Linked DNA regions of Homo sapiens: region 2 is linked to region 1. The links come from fine-mapping of genetic effects on gene expression. Tissue or cell type: cerebellar hemisphere. Region 1 holds a variant in brackets; the other region holds the start of a gene. All regions are shown on one strand. Distances are between the middles of the regions.

Region 1 (8,185 bases):
CAACAATGTATAAGCATTGTCTTTTCTCTGCAGCCTCACCAGCATCTGTTGTTTTCGACTTTTTAACAATAGCCATTCTGACTAGTATGAGATGGTATCTCATTGTGGGTTTGATTTGCATTTCTCTGATGATTAGTAATGCTGACCATTTTTTCATATGTTTGTTGGCCACTTGTATATCTTCTTTCCAGAAGCATCTGTTCATGTCCTTTGCCCACTTTTTAATGGGGTTGATTTTTTCTTGTTGATTTGTTTAAGTTCCTTAAAGATTCTGAATATTAGACCTTTGTCAGCTGCATAGTTTGCAAATATTTTCTCCCATTCTGTAGATTGTTTACTCTGTTGATAGTTCTTTTGCTGTGCAGAAGGTCTTTAGTTTAATTAAGGCCAAATTATCAATTTTTGTTTTTGTTACAATTGCTTTTGAAGACTTAGTCATAAACTCTTTGCCTAGGCTGATGTCCACAAAAGTATTTTTTAGGTTTTGTTCTAGGATTTTATAGTTTGAGGTCTTACATTTAAGTTTTTAATCCATCTTGAGTTAATTTCTGTATGTAGTGAAAGGTAGGAGTTCCGTTTCTATCACAACTTATGTGGCATAAGTGCGAGTCCTTTCACCATGCTAGTTACATCCCTTTGCATATACTCTTCCTTCACATTGTCCTATGAAAGTTGAAGAAAACAAAAAGATACTAAAGATATAGTCTTATTAGTTGCTTATAGAAGAGGTCTATTTCATCCCATATTTGGGACTCAGGTTTCTACTAATGCAACCTCAGTTTACATGTGCTTTTCATGGTAGTCATAGCATATTGTTCACTCATATTGAACTGACTCCTCCAATCTGAGAGATTCCGTTGGCATGAAAAAGGGTTAAACTCCTTGCTAAAACATGAAATCATTATTTATTGTCATTTAATACATTTTTTGGAAGGCAAAGCGAGATGACCCAATAGAAGCCTGCACCACTCATTCCCCAAGCAGGAGCATCAAATTCTAACTATACTCAAGAGCACCATCATCACAAGAACCCAAATCAGGTGAGCAATCACAGTACCTAGTTTCAACTCCATATTTCTGAAAGAGGCTAGAAGAGATAGTCTTGAAGAGCCAAACTACCACTCCTCCATACCCCAGCAGTGACTGGGGGCTCAGAGAGAGAATCTGTGCACTTGAGGGAGGGACAACTGGGGGACTTTACACTGAACTCAGTGCTGCCCTGGGAGTAGAGAATAAAGCTGTGCTGGGCTCACCTAGCGCCCACGCATGGAGGAGGCTTTCAGAGCAGACCTAGCCAGAGGGGATTCACCCATCCCAGTGATGGAAACTTGAGTTTCTCTGAAGGCCTTGCCACTGTGGGCCATAAGTGCTCTGATGTCCTAGGTAAACTTGAAGAGTAATCTAGGGCACAAGGATTGCAATTCCTAGGCAACGCCTAGTGCTGGGCTGGCCTTAGATCCTGGGAACTTGTCAGGTAAATGGCCTAGAGCAATACCAGACAGCGAGGCCAAGGGAGTGCTCGCACAACTCCTGCCTCAACCCCAGGCAGTGCAGCTCACAGAGATGAAAGTGACTTCTTCCTTCTGCTTGAGGAAAGGAGAGCAAAGAGTAAAGAGGACGTTGTCTTGAATCTTGGATACCAGCCCAGCCACAGTGAGACAGGACATCAGGCAGAGTCATGAGGCCCCTCTTTCCAAGCCCTAGCTAGTGGATTACATTTCTAGACACACCCTGGGCCAGAATGAAACCTGCTGCCTTGAAGGGAAGGACCCAGTCCTGGTAGGATTCATCACCTGCTGACTAAGGAGTCCTTAGGCCCTGGATAACAAACAGCAGTACCCAGGTAGTACACCATGGGCCTTGGGCTCTGAGATGTGTTGGCTTTAGGTGTGATTTAGGACATTCTCAGCTGTGGTGACTACAGCAAAAGACTCCTTCTGTTTGAGAAAAGCAGAGAGAGAAGTAAAGGGGACTTTGTCTTGCACCTTAGGCACCGGCTTGGCCACTGGGGAGTAGAGCACCAGCAGACCCTTGGGGTCCCCGGTTCCAGGCCTAGGCTCTTGGATGGCCATTTCTGGACCTGCCTTATAAAAGAAGGGGAGCCCACCACTCTGAAGGGTGAGTCTCAGGCCTGGAAGCATTCATCACAAGCTGACTGAAGAGCCCTTAGGCTCTAAGTGAACATCAGCAGTGCCCTGGCAGAACCCCACCATGGGCTGGTGGTGGTGGCAGCCACAGGGAGAGGCTCCTCTCTCTGTGAAAAGGAGGGAGAAGAGTGGGAAAGGCTTTGTATTGTGGTTTGAGTGCCAGCTTAGCCACAGTAGAATAGAACATCAGGTAAATTTCTAAGGTTTTTGACTCTAATCCCTGGCTCCCAGACAGCATCTTTGGACCCAACTGGGGCCTGGGGGAACTTACCACCCTTAAAGAAGGGACACAAACTTGGCTGGCTTCGCCACCTGCTAATCATAGAGCCCTAGGGCCTTGAGTGATCATAGGCGGTAGCCAGGTAGTGATTACAGGGGGCCTTGGGTGAAACCCAGTGCTGTGCTGTTTTCAAGTCTGAATTGGTGCAGTCCCAGTGGTGGTAGCCTGTGTTCCCCACCCCCAGTTTCAGGGAACTCAGCAGACAGAGACAGACTCCATTTGCGGGAAAGTGAGGGAAAAGAACACGAGTCTCTGCTTGGTAATCCAGAGAATTCTTCCAGATCGTATGCAAGACTGCCAAGGCAGTATCTCTATGAGTCTGCAAGAACCACAGCATTATTGGGCTTGGGGCTCAAGTTCCTTCTAACACCTGGAAAGCCTTCCCAAGAAGGAGGGGCACAAACCAGCCCAGACTGCAAAGACAACAATAAATGCCTAACTCTTCAGTGACCAGACACTGACGAACATCTACGAGCATCAAGACCATCCAGGAAAACTTGAGCTCACCAAAGAAACTAAATAAGGCACCAGGGACCAATCCTGGAGAAACAGAGATATGTGTCCTTTCAGACAGAAAACTCAAAATAGCTGTGTTGAGGAAACTTATGAGAAATTCAAGATAACACAGAGAGGGAATTCAGAATTCTATCAGATGAATTTAACAAGGAGATTGAAATTATTTAAAAGAATCAAGAAGAAATTCTAGAGTTGAAAAATGCAAGTGACACACTGAAGAATGCATCAGAGCCTCTTAATATCAGAATTTAGGCAGAAGAAATAATTCGTGAGCTTGAAGATGAGGTATTTGAAAATACACAGTCAGAGGAGACAAAAGAAAAAAGAATAAGAAAGAATGAAGAACACTTAAAAGATCTACAAAATAGCCTCAAAAGGGCAAATCTAAGAGTTATTGGCCTTAAAAAGAAGGTAAAGAGATGGGGTAGAGAGTTTATTCAAAGGGATAAGAGCAGAGAACTTATCAAATCTAGAGAAAGGGCCAGGCCTAGTGGCTTACGCCTATAATTCCAGCACTTTGGAAGGCTGAGCCAGGCAGATCACTTGAGGTCAGGAGTTCAAGACCAGCCTGGCCAACATGTTGAAACCCCATCTTTACTAAAAATACAAAAATTACCTAGACATTGTGGCAGACGCCTGTAATCCCAGCTACTCGGGAGGCTGAGGCAGGAGAACAGCTTAAACTTGGGAGGTGGAGGTTGCAGTGAGCCAAGATTGTGCCACTGCACTCCAGTCTGCACTACAAGAACAAAACTCTGTCTCAGAAAATAAAAATGTTTTAAAAACCCCTACATAAAGATATCAATACTCAAGTCCAAGAAGGATATTGAGCAGCGAGTAGATTTAACCCAAAGAAGACTATCTCAAGGAATTTAATAATCAAACTCCGAAACTCCCAAAGGTCAAGGATAAAGAAAAAAATCCTAAAACACATTTTTCTTACTGGCTTATCCTGGACCTTATGGAATAGCATATGGAATAAGACATTTGAGAATAAAATTTGGTTTAGGATAGCACTATTATAAGTTGATATCAAACATTGTTCTAAATAGAAAAATACTTTTCAAGAATATTCTCAATAGCATGTGTGTTTTCTCTACAGCAATTTTTAAAAGAACGCATACCCTTCAAAATGTGTAATTATAAAAGCTAACGTGTACTGGACCTTTACTGTGAGCCACAGCAACACTATAAAGTGGATCACAAATATTCTCATTTTAGAGATGAGAAACTGATTTATTTCCCGTGATTCTTATATGAAGAAAAATTCTGCTTCATCAGCTCTTTGATTAACTGGAAACATGGTTCATAGAAGAGAGGCAGGATTGATACTCGATTCTTTCATTTTAGTTTTCAATTTTTAGAATAAGAAGCCAGTGTTCTAGCCATATTCAAAGGTAATAAGCCAGATTCCCTTTTCAAAGCATTATAATTAACTCGTAGATTTTTATATATTTGATGTTGTAATCAGTGACAGTATTATTATTGATGTTCAAATAGCCCTATCTTTGACCAGTGAGAGCTTCTCAAGTTACCTTTAATGTCCTTTC[G/A]GCAAAACCCCAAGTTTTTGTAACTTACTTGCTTAAGGAGTGTCAAGTTGTCTCATACTTACCATCTATATTCCCCGCCTTAGACCTGAAACCTGCTACTTTACCGTGGAGCTCCTGTGTTTTTTTAAATTAGGAAATAGTATTTAGAAACCACAAGCTCAGCATTAAGGGTGTTCATCAAAACTAGGTTGTCACTATCCCTCAGGCTTTTCTGTGGGTAGAGGTAGAAAACAACAATATTTTTGGACTTATAAGTAAATCATCAGTTTCTACTGTATTTTTGACAATAGTTTGGACTGATTTTTAAAAACCCATCAGTTTATACTATGTTTTTCAAGTCAAAGATTACATAGAGTTTTCCTTAACACCTTCACTTTTATAGATGCACTTTTTTCTCCTGTGCTGAAAATTTTAGATCCTAAATCACATTAATACAAATATTTATTGTTTCAAAATAATAATAACAATTTTATTGACAATAAAAAAAACTTCAGGTTTTTGGGTCTTTTTGTCCTTATGATATTCTACTGGCAACGAACAGACAAAATATGTATTTTGTTTCTCTTTTTCATATTTTTAGAAATCACATTTTTATATTTTTAGAAATCACATTTTAAAATCTTTATTTCATCTTATTTTTTAATTATGTGAGATATTTACATGTTTACAAATTAAAATTATAAAATAAGGTAACTTTAGGGAGGTCTGGATTCCATTTCTGCTCTCTTCTTATTTTCCTTATCCCTCTATGGCATACAATTTTTATTTTTTTGATTCATTATTTCATTGTTTCATTTTAAATATAAGAAGTACTGTATTTATCCCTTTATGAGACAAAAAGTAGCGTAGTATAGGCTGTTTAAACTTTGTTGGCTTTGTTGCTTATTTTTACTAAATATACTGGACATATCTCCACAGTGATACATAGAGGTCTTCCTAATTTCTTTTTCATAATTACATCACTTTTCATTCTAATGGATGTCCATGGATTATTCAACTTTTAATGAATATTTGGGTTGTTTGTAATCTTTTGTTGTTACAAATAGTACTGCAATGGATGCTCCCTCATGAAAACGTCATTTTCTATTTTAGCTAGTATATCTTTGGAATAGACTCCTAGAAGTGGAATTGCTTGCTGAAAACATACATACACACATAATTTTGCTAGATATTACTGAATTCTGTCCCCTGGTGTTTTACCTACCATTTTTATAATCACACCAACAATGTATGAGACTGTTTGCTTCTCCAAAGCCTTACCATCGCTGTACATTGTAAAGCTTTTGGATTTTTCCTACATAACAGGTCAGAGAACTATTATACAAATATATTTTAATATGCTTTTATCTAATAAGTGAGGTTCAACATCGTTCATATGTTTAAAGGCCATAAGCATTTCTTTTTCTGCTAAATATTTTTTTAATTATACTTTAAGTTTTAGGGTACATGTGCACAACATGCAAGTTTGTTACACATGTATACACGTGCCATGAAGGTGTGCTGCACCCATTAACTCGTCATTTACATTAGGTATTTCTCCTAATGCTATCCCTCCCCCCTTCCCCCACCCCACAACAGGCCCCAGTGTGTGATGTTCCCCTTCCTGTGTCCATGTGTTCTCATTGTTCAATTCCCACCTAGGAGTGAGAACATGTGGTATTTGGTTTTTTTGTCCTTGTGATAGTTTGCTGAGAATGATGGTTTCCAGCTTCATCCATGTCCCTACAAAGGACATGAACTCATCATTTTTTATGGCTGCATAGTATTCCATGGTGTATATGTGCCACATTTTCTTAATCCAGTCTATGATTGTTGGACATTTGGCTTGGTTCCAAGTCTTTGCTATTGTGAATAGTGCCGCGATAAACATACGTGTGCATGTGCCTTCATAGCAGCATGTTTTTTAATCCTTTGGGCATATACCCAGTAATGGGATGGCTGGGTCAGATGGTATTTCTAGTTCTAGATCCCTGAGGAATCGCCACACTGACTTCCACAATGGTTGAACTAGTTTACAGTCCCATTAACTGTGTAAAAGTGTTCCTATTTCTCCACATCCTCTCCAGCACCTGTTCATCTCACTGGGGAGTGTCGGACAGTGGGTGCAGGACAGTGGGTGCAGCACACCGATCACAATTAGATGAATGGCTAACTAAAATAACCAATGCAGAGAAGTCCTTAAAAGACCTGATGGAGCTGAAAACCACGGCACGAGAACTACGTGACGAATGCACAAGCCTCAGGAGCCAATTCAATCAACTGGAAGAAAGGGTATCAGTGATGGAAGATCAAATGAATGAAATGAAGCGAGAAGAGAAGTTTAGAGAAAAAAGAATAAAAAGAAACAAACAAAGCCTCCAAGAAATATGGGACTATGTGAAAAGACCAAATCTACGTCTGATTGGTGTACCTGAAAGTGACGGGGAGAATGGAACCAAGTTGGAAAACACTCTGCAGGATATTATCCAGGAGAACTTCCCCAATCAAGCAAGGCAGGCCAACATTCAAATTCAGAAAATACAGAGAACGCCACAAAGATACTCCTCGAGAAGAGCAACTCCAAGACACATAATTGTCAGTTTCACCAAAGTTGAAATGAAGGAAAAAAAGTTAGTTGCCTTTTTACATCATTTACTATGTCCTTTGGTGCACGGAATTTTGACATTTTGATGTAGTTCAACTATTTATCTATTTTTCATTGCCTGTGATTTTACATCATATCTAAGAAATCTTTGCTAAATCCAATGTCATGAAGCTTTCCACCATGTTTTTTCTTCTAGTAATTTTATTGTTTTAGCTCTTATGTTTAGATTTTTGATACTTTTTTTTTCAGTCAGAGTCTGGCTCTATCACCCAGGCTGGAGTGCAGTGGCACAATCTCGGCTCACTGCAACTTCTGCCTCCTGGGTTCAAGTGATTCTCCTGCCTCAGCCTCCCAAGTAGCTGGGATTACAGGCATGTGCCACCATGCCTGGCTAATTTTTGTATTTTTAGTGGAGACAGGGTTTCACCATGTTGGCCAGGCTGGTCTCGAACTCCTGACTTCAGGTGATCCACCCACCTTGGCCTCCCAAAGTACTAGAGTTACAGGTGTGAGCCACCATGCCCAGCCCAATATTTGATACATTTTGAGTTGATTTTTGTATGTGGTATAAAAGCAGGGGCCAACTTCATTCTTTTGCAAGTAGATACCCAGTTTTCCCAGCACCATCTGTGGAAGGCTGTTTCTTCCTCATTGTATGGTCTTGGTCCCCTTGTCAAAAATGTTTTGACCATCTATGTGAGAGCTTGTTTCTTGGCATTCTATTCTATCCTGTAGGTCAATGTGGCTGTCTTCATGCCAGAATAATCTTTCGTTTGTGACAGAAGTAGCAATTATTTTCCCCAGCTTGTCATTTGTCTTTTTACTTTTTTATATTACTTTTGCCATGCAAAAGTTGTTTTATTTTTATGTAGTTGAACTGATCAATTGTTTTACTGTTTTTGTATTTTGTGTCATAGTTAGGAAAGTTTTTCTCATACTCAGCTTATTAAGAAATATGTCAATGTTTCCTTCTAGTACATGAATAACACCATGTCAATTTATCTAATAATTGTTATCTTCAATTCTACTACAAAGTGTCCATATAAAAAGAGAAATTGACTCCTTTTAGTGAATCCATAATAAGAAACCAAATTGAAAAACACTGCAA
Region 2 (8,185 bases), 60 kb before region 1:
TTCTTTCAAAATTAACTTATTAATGACTTGAAATTCACATTTATAACTTCATTTTGACTGCTTGATCTTGGATATGTTTAAACTAAATGTTTTCGAACCTAAGAAGTAAAAAAATAATATCCTCTTTTTATATCCAGGAGCCAAGACTCAAATTTTAAATAACTTTTTGACAATGTCATGTAGTAAACCTGACTTCTACTCATTCAATCCCATTATTTCAGCTAGGTCAAAATAAAAATATGCTACTTTCTTTTTTACCTATGAGCTAAAAAGCAAAGTAGCCATAGATTTACAAGTAGAAGGAAATTTTAAAGATCATCCCTCATTTCACACAAAATCACAGCTATGGGGTAATCTAAAATACTATTTTAAAATACCTTCAGAAAACAAAATTCCATATCCTTAACACAATATACCTTCTAAAAATACTTCTTTGCTCTCAGAGAATAGTTACAGTTAAATACATTAAGTGATGTAAACTAAAAACAGTTTTCAAAACATCTTGCTTTTTCCTACCTCCCTAGCTTTACACATGCAGCTCCATCTGGGTGAACACTTCTCTGCAACATGCCTAACATTCCTATTTCCTATGGCCTGGATTTCAAGGATTCTCAACCAGAGGCAGTACCACTCCCCTAGGGAGTGTTTTGAAAAGCTTGGAGGGTTTCGTTGTTGTTTGATTGGTTGGTTGGTTGGTCTTGGTTATTACAGTAACTAGAGGTGCTACTGTCATTAAGGATTTCAGGGGCTAAAGACACTTAATCTGCAATGTGGGATTATCCTGCCCAAAATGTTAATAGCACCCTTGCTAAGGAACACTGTTACCCAGCCAAAACCAACAAATTCCTCAGGAATCAACCTAGGTGCCACCTCCTTTGGGAATTCTACTATAATTCATATAATTTGATGCAGATACTCCTCTTAGCTGTCCCTATAATAAAACTATGCCGCCTCTCCCATCATTACACTTACCACAGTGTAATGTAATTAACTGTTTGCCATGTCCATCAGAAAGAAATTACAATTTTTCCTGCACAACAAAATGAGTAAAATTCTAAATGTTTAATTAAGTATACTTACCAGCGTGAGCAACCCCACATGCTTTTTTGACTGGATCTGCAAAAACTATCGGTATACAGTCTGCACCAAGAGCTGCTATTGTGACTCCTCTCTGATTTGTGGTTATTCCATCATAAGAGTCAGGCTCCTTTCTTCCCATAATCCAGATGTCATTGGAATGATGAGTCTAATACCAAAAATGTGCAACAAAAATGTTTTGGAAATAGTATTTCTTATACCATAAGCTTTCTCGAAGGTACTCATTGTAGTATAAAATTATATAACCAGTTTAAGATTACTAGCATTCATTAAATATATCACTTTTATATATGGGAAAACACAAAATTTACTTATAATTTAACTATTTAAGATTTTAGATTATAATCTCTGATAGTTTATGCAAAGAAAAGCAGAGTTTAACATTATAAAATTCAATATAGTGAATAATGAACATCTTTCCATAAAGATAGGTATATCATTTCTTATAGCACTTTCTACAAAATGAAAATTTTTCTTGTAAAGGAAAGTTAATTAACAAATCAATGATACTTTTACTTTTCCAAGACTCAAGTAAAGCTAGAATTCTGTAAGGAACAAGACATTATCTCATCAACTATGACCCTAGTTCCTCCTGGAGTAGATTTATAAAATAATGGCCTTTCTCTACCACCATTCAGTTCCCTTTCTTCTAAATCAAAAAGAGCAGTGGTAGTATACTCTCTGAGAATTAACTGTACTTTTAGAATTGAGGACTCCAGATGAAATATACAGTAGGCTCTTGAATAATGTCATTTTATTCCACATCATTTCATTATAATGTTAATGAAAAAAATTGATTACCCACCCGGTCACTGACTGTGTGAGGTTTGCACCTTCTCCTCACGTCCACATGGGTTTTCTCTGGGTACTCCAGCTTCCTCCCACATCCCAAAGAAGTGCATGTTAGATGAATTGGGGTGTCTACATGGTCCCAGCATGAGTACGTGTGTGTGTGTGTAAGGGCACCCTGCAATGGAATGGTGTCCTGTCGAGGGTGGGTTGTGGCCTTGCATCCTGATCTGCCAGAATAGACTCCAGCTACCTAAAGCCCTGAACCGAAATAATTTGGTAGTTATCTTATTTGTCTTTCTTACTGTTTTGTAAATATATGTCTAGCTCACATTTATTTCAATGTTTAATACTAGGAATGTGTTGGTCTTTATTTAGAAGTTTGGTGATGTTTTTGTGACAAGAAATATGCCTTAGAAACTTTATTCTTATTTATATCAATTAGCCTATGGTAAAATTGGTTTTATTATGTCGTTTCACTTAAAGTCACAATTTCTAAGAACCTATCAACATTAAAGGATGACTTACTATATGTGTGTGTGCATATATATATATATATATATATCTGCACGTGTGTGTGTGTGTGTATAAAATAGAACTTATCTTTAGGCTATGGTGTATAAATCTAAGAAAGACAACCACAGCATTATTCTAAAACTTTAGATAAAAAAGCAGATACAAAAGTTAAATAGCTTAAAGTCCATGTAGTTACTAGCAAAGTAAAAAATATACTTTAGATCTTTCAAAATATAAAGCAAAATTTTACCTTTATTCGGTAAAATTTCTCCACATTAAATCCTGCAGCATTCGCCAACCTACGCAGATTTTCTTGAACCACTACCTTGGGATCTCTCCGTTTGGAACTACTGAAGAGATTGAATGAGCTAAGAGTTGGTATATAAGATATCCCACCTGTTCTTGTAGTAAATCCATGTATGAAAATATCTGTTGAAGATAAGCAGTGAAGATTTAAAAGATGCTATTCAAAATACCAGTCTCTCAATTAGACCTTCCCTGATCACTGCTACCTGCCCTTGTTATTTGGCTTCTAATTTCTATGGCATTTTGTACCTCCATATGTTCTTATGGCATTCTGCTTTGTGTTTGTTTTACACTCCCTATGAGATTGTTGCTCTTCAAAAGGTATATTGTGTCTCATCTGGCTTTGTTATATCTAATAGCATATAGCTCACAGAAAATACTGTTTAACCAAGAAGTAAGATTGATTGTTTTAAATTTTACTCTTCTATGAAGGTGCCAATGATTTGAAATTTCAGAATTTCTAAATAGAAGATTTTCAGTGTCATAAATCTCATTGCAAAGGAGGGCTAGATTATTTGTCTCATCATCAAATTTTTGTAAAGCAAATTTATTTATTTGGGGTGGCTTTGAAGGCTTTATCCCTTGACACCCCTGATACTACAGGGCCAAACATGACACCTCTGTGTTGCCACTGATGCTAATGAGTAATCAGCCCACAACAGTCAACAAAAGAAAGGAGGAAAAAAAGAGGTGAACTACCTCTGAAGAAAGACTAGTTTTCCATGTACAAAGTAAAAACAACAGTTAGTGGTTAATATACCTGGGATCAAAGAAGAAGTGATAATAGTTAATTTTCCTCTCAGTGCTGGCAGACTTCTCAAAAATGTTTCTATTTCATTCTGAATTCCTCTTAGTTCTTGAGCTGTGATTACGTTTATTTCAATGGACTGTTTAAAAAGCCCTCCCCTAAAAGTCACTTGCAAATCTTCAAATTCAAAATTGTAAACATCAGTGAAGAGTTGATCAATAAAAGCTTTCATTAATGTCTTCCTGTGCCTGGGTACAATTACCTTAATGCTGCTCAGATTTTTTTCATCAATTTTCTGTTTAATGGTATACAAAGTGGCAGCCATGCTGGGACAGCTAACAATCTCAAATTCTTCCAAGAGAGCTGATAATCCATTGCTTGTTTCTATTTCACAATTATCTTGTTCTCCATCCCTTTCATAGCTGATGTTACTGCAACACATTATACAGAGAAACTTGGCCTTGGCAGCATGGTGGTATTGGACAGCATTCAAAGTCTTCAGTAATGTCTGATGGCAGTTTTTTTGAGAGTTCAATTTCAAACCAAAAAGATCAATCAAAACAGCTTCTGCCATCCTTGAAAGAATACTTTTATGCCAAATAAATCACCTGCAAATAAAAATTAGTGTAAGAATATAAGATTATATAAATCTTATAGTTACAACAGAAATTTGTGGTAGATTAAAAACGAAGTAATTACACTGATTTTAAAATGTAACTAAAATAGTAAATCTAGGCCCCTCCCAGAAAAGCCAGTCTACTCTGTCACAACAGAACCATGACAGTGAAAGCAAAGCCATCTTTTAATTCGTTTTGTGAAAATGCTGGTACATCTTTCCAGCAGCACGACAGTTCCTCTGTTTTGTTTACACAGAACTTTTGAGTAAGGAATTACTTGTGGAGTTTAGACAAAGTCCTGTTTTTAAATTGCAGAGTGTCAACCTGTGTGATATATCATTAGTCCTGACATGATTGTCATATTAGGTCTCATCCTTTCATATGCGGGGGCTTAAGTTTACGAAGCTAAATGGAGCTGCACGCGAAATTCGCGTTTTAAGATGATAAAAGCTGAGATGGCTAATAGAGTTCCCTTCAGGATTTGCGCAGTACTCCACACTTAGCAATGACCACAAAAGCTATAGTGATTTGGATGAGACAGGCTTCCTCTCAACTTTCTTAATTCATTCTCCCCGTGCAGCTTTGCTCACCTCCAGCCCAGCCCTCCCACCCCAACCTGCGGGGCTCCGGTGACCCCCTTTGGTGACGCCCTTTGCCCCAAGAAGGTTTTCTCCTGCCGCTTCCCCTAACCTTTGCTCCCCATCTCTCGGGGCTCCCTCTGAGGTTCATTTAGCCAGTTTTGAGTGGGTGACCGTCCCCCCTTCCCTGTTCATTGTGAATTTCCGCCCAACGTGTGTCGCCGCCAGGTCCCTGTTCCTCCTACCCGCCTCGGCTCACGGGGCGCAGGCTGTGGCTCTGCACCTGCCCGGGCACCTCCACCGGCGGCTCACAGCCCATTCGGGACTTCCTGTCGGACAACGCACACCAGAGGCGATTCGGTCCTCGCCTTCCCGCTCTTCACCTTCGGTTGCACACCGGTCTACGGCGACCTCTGTGACAATTTGCCGCCCCGTCCCTCGTCCTGAGCCTCAACGAAATTGGGCAGCCGCGAGCGGGTCAGCTGGAGTCGTAAGCTCGGCCCAGCGCGACGACACCCGCCCCGCCTCACCTCGCCCACCTCGCCCACCTCGCCCCGCCTCGCCTCGCCCCGCCTCGCCCCGCCTCACCTCGCCCCCCTCGCCCACCTCGCCCCGCCTCACCTCACCTACCTCGCCGCGGCCGCACAGATTCCCCGCCTGATACCGTCCCAGGATCCCAGGGGAAACCTGACGGCCAGGTTCCCTCGTGCCAGCTGCCGGGAGGCGGGAGGGAGGTAGGCCAGGGCCGCCTGGCGTGCTTGGTGCGAACGCGGCGGGCCCAGCGCGAGAGCTGGGGAATCCCGGGATGAGCCAAGCGCCGCGAGCCCGCTGCTGCCTCAGCAGTTCCGGGTCTGGGCGGTCCGCGGAGTCGGCATCCCGCAGCCCCGGCGGCGTTAGAGGAACAGGAACCAGAGCCGCGCGAGGGCTCTCGCCCGGGAGCCAGGCGGGTTAGCGGGCAGGAGTGGGCAGGCCGAGTCCGGAAAGGGTCGCGAGGAGGCAGCTAGGGGCCCCTTGAGGAGGGATAGGGCGGCGGAACGACGGGCCCTGGGAGCGGGCGCAGGGCGGCAGGAGCTGCAGGTCTCCAGAGGGCACGGGGCGGGGAACTAGGGGCCCGGTTAGAAAGCCGGGCGGCGGGAACGGCGGGCACCGTGAGGGGGCGGCGGGAATGGTGGGTCGCGTGAGGCCGGGCTGCTGGAGCGACCTCGGGACTAAACCGCAGTCTCCCTTCTGCTAATGGAAGCCGTTTCCCAAGCGAGCTGAAGTCCGCGTTTCCGGTCTCTGAGGGACGCCTCGCTGACCCAGCAGTGTGGTCAGGACGCTGGGTTTCCTCACCGCAGCCCAGGGCCAGTCCCTTGTCATGCTAGCTCTTGGCAGCTTTTCCCATGCAGGGCTCAAGTCAGGGGCCCCCTCGAGATGTTTTAGTGTTTTTTTGTTGTTCATTTGTTTCCAGAAACAAGCTGTTGTCTCTCCTCCAATGTCTTTGTGCTGATTCTTGCTGACCAACACTCTTCCGAGCGCCTTCACTTGTGTTGACAACACGGATGTCCTCTATGGCCTTTTAAAATATGTGCCACTAGCAGGACTTAAGTAAAAGGCGCTCATCCCTAAAATCATGATAAAGGTGCAGTTTAGCATCCCTGATCTGTCCTCCAAGAATATAACGTTCATTTATTTGAAAATAGCAGTTAGGACATGGAAGGCCAGTGTATGGTAAAGGGAAAAAATATCCGACCTTCCAAGAGTAAGAGAAATGGTGCTTCCTGGGGAACTGGTTATGATGGAAGGAGAGGTCCCTTTTATCTTCATTGTTGCTCATTTGGTAGGCGCTAAAGAACCTTTGTCTCATAATCTCAGATAGCTGGGAATTTGGAAGAGCCCTCTGGGGTAGGCATGTTCTTGTGCTTGACTAGAGACTGGGAGCACTAACCCAGAATGGAAACCCACCCTTCAATAACCCTAGCACCAGTTATGTCAAAATTCATGTTTTCTTTGGTCATTTGTTAAAGAGCCCCGAGCGGTAGATGGTACACCCAATCAGAAGGTGCACTCTGCCCTGAGTTTGTTTATGTTAAATATCATTAGATTGGTGCAAAGGTAATTGCGGTTTTTGCCATTGACAAAGACCACAATTACTTTTGCACCAGCTTAATACCTCAAGCAAAACAGAGGTCTTTTAGTTACAAAGGTTTTAAACATTTATCTCTGTTTTTACAATGGTGGGATTCGTATTCTTTCATGCAAAAGTAGTGGCAGTAAAAAAAAAATGAAAAAGAAAATATTTCAAAAGAATGAAGTTGTCAGGGAAGAGAGTTTGTTATATTGTATTTGCATACCATTTCCTTTCACCATCTGGTCCTAGTGTCATGTCCTAACACTTCCTCATCCCATTTTCACTCTATCCTACTCCAGTGGTTCTCAGTCTTGGCTGCAAATCAGAACTGCAAGTGCAACTGAAAAAAAAAATAATTAATGTAGAGACTCTATCCCAAATATACATTGAATCAGAATCTCTAGGAGTTAGGCCTGAGCATGTTTTGCTTTGCTTTTTTGTTTTGTTTTAACCTCTATGTATGAGTTAGATGCATAATTAAGTTTGAAAAAATAAAAACACCCTATTCCCAAGCCACTCAAATAAAAGCTGTTCTTTGGAGGCCACATGATTTCATTCTTTACATTTGCAGTTCCTCTACTTAGCAAAATACCCTCCTTTTTATATGCCTAACTGCTACTTTTTGTTCAAGGCTCTTCAAGCTCAAACATAATCTTCCCTGAATCCCCATCCCTCATCAAGCAAAATTAATAGCTTCTTTACATTTTGTTCATATGAAGAAGCCCTCTCATAGATGTAGTCTGGGCCCCTAGCCAAGAAATAAGTGGAAAAAATGGTTAAATATTGAATTGTACACTTTATAAGGATGTACTTTGTGGTATGTAAATTATATCTAAAAAAGGCTTTTTTTATAAGAAAAAAGGTCAGTTAAACCACAGAATCATGAAAAAATATAACAAATACCTTAAACTGTATTCTAACCTAAAACAACTGTGTGTTCATTTGCCCATCTATTGAGAAGATCCAAGACCTTTTCTTTGCATGTAGTCTACTGATTGGAATTCTGCATACTATCTCTTGCATAAACCGTACCCATAAACCATCAGCTAAGATTTCCCAAGATTTTGTTCTTTTAAGGGGAAAATAACTTAAAGGCACCTGTGAAGCAATCTGAGGGCAGATTTATACTTTGTAATTTTTTTCTTTTTTGAGATGAAGTCTCGCTCTGTCGCCAGGCTGTAGTACAGTGGTGCGATCTCGGCTCACTGCAGCCTCCACAGGGTTCAAGTGATTCTCCTGCCTTAGCCTCCCAAGTAGCTAGGATTACAGGCGTGCACCACCACGCCCGGCTAATTTTTGTATTTTTAGTAGAGACGGGGTTTCACCATGTTGGCCAGGATGGTCTCGAACTCCTGACCTCTCTTGATCTGCCTGCCTCAGCCTCCCAAAGTGCTGGGATTACAGGCATGAGCCACCGCTATAT

The links. PIP is the estimated chance that this variant, and not a neighbour inherited with it, causes the effect.
Region 2: it holds the start of LACC1, and the variant in region 1 is fine-mapped to the expression of LACC1 in cerebellar hemisphere (GTEx, PIP above 0.99). The same link has a PIP of 0.9 or more in whole blood.

Annotation. Positions count from the first base shown.
Region 1 is chr13:43,816,761-43,824,945 of GRCh38, reverse strand. It overlaps a transcript of CCDC122 not described here. Among named protein-coding and RNA genes, the nearest start is that of ENOX1, 34 kb to the right of the region's middle. The variant G/A (reference allele first, on the strand shown) is at 4,494.
Region 2 is chr13:43,876,832-43,885,016 of GRCh38, reverse strand. LACC1 (laccase domain containing 1) reads right to left here and starts at 5,113. Exons shown (of 7, transcript NM_153218.4): 1 at 4,898-5,113; 2 at 3,470-4,065; 3 at 2,654-2,832; 4 at 1,081-1,246. The coding sequence starts at 4,031. It overlaps CCDC122 (coiled-coil domain containing 122), which reads left to right and starts at 5,277. Exons shown (of 7, transcript NM_144974.5): 1 at 5,277-5,386. RefSeq lists a silencer at 5,226-5,375.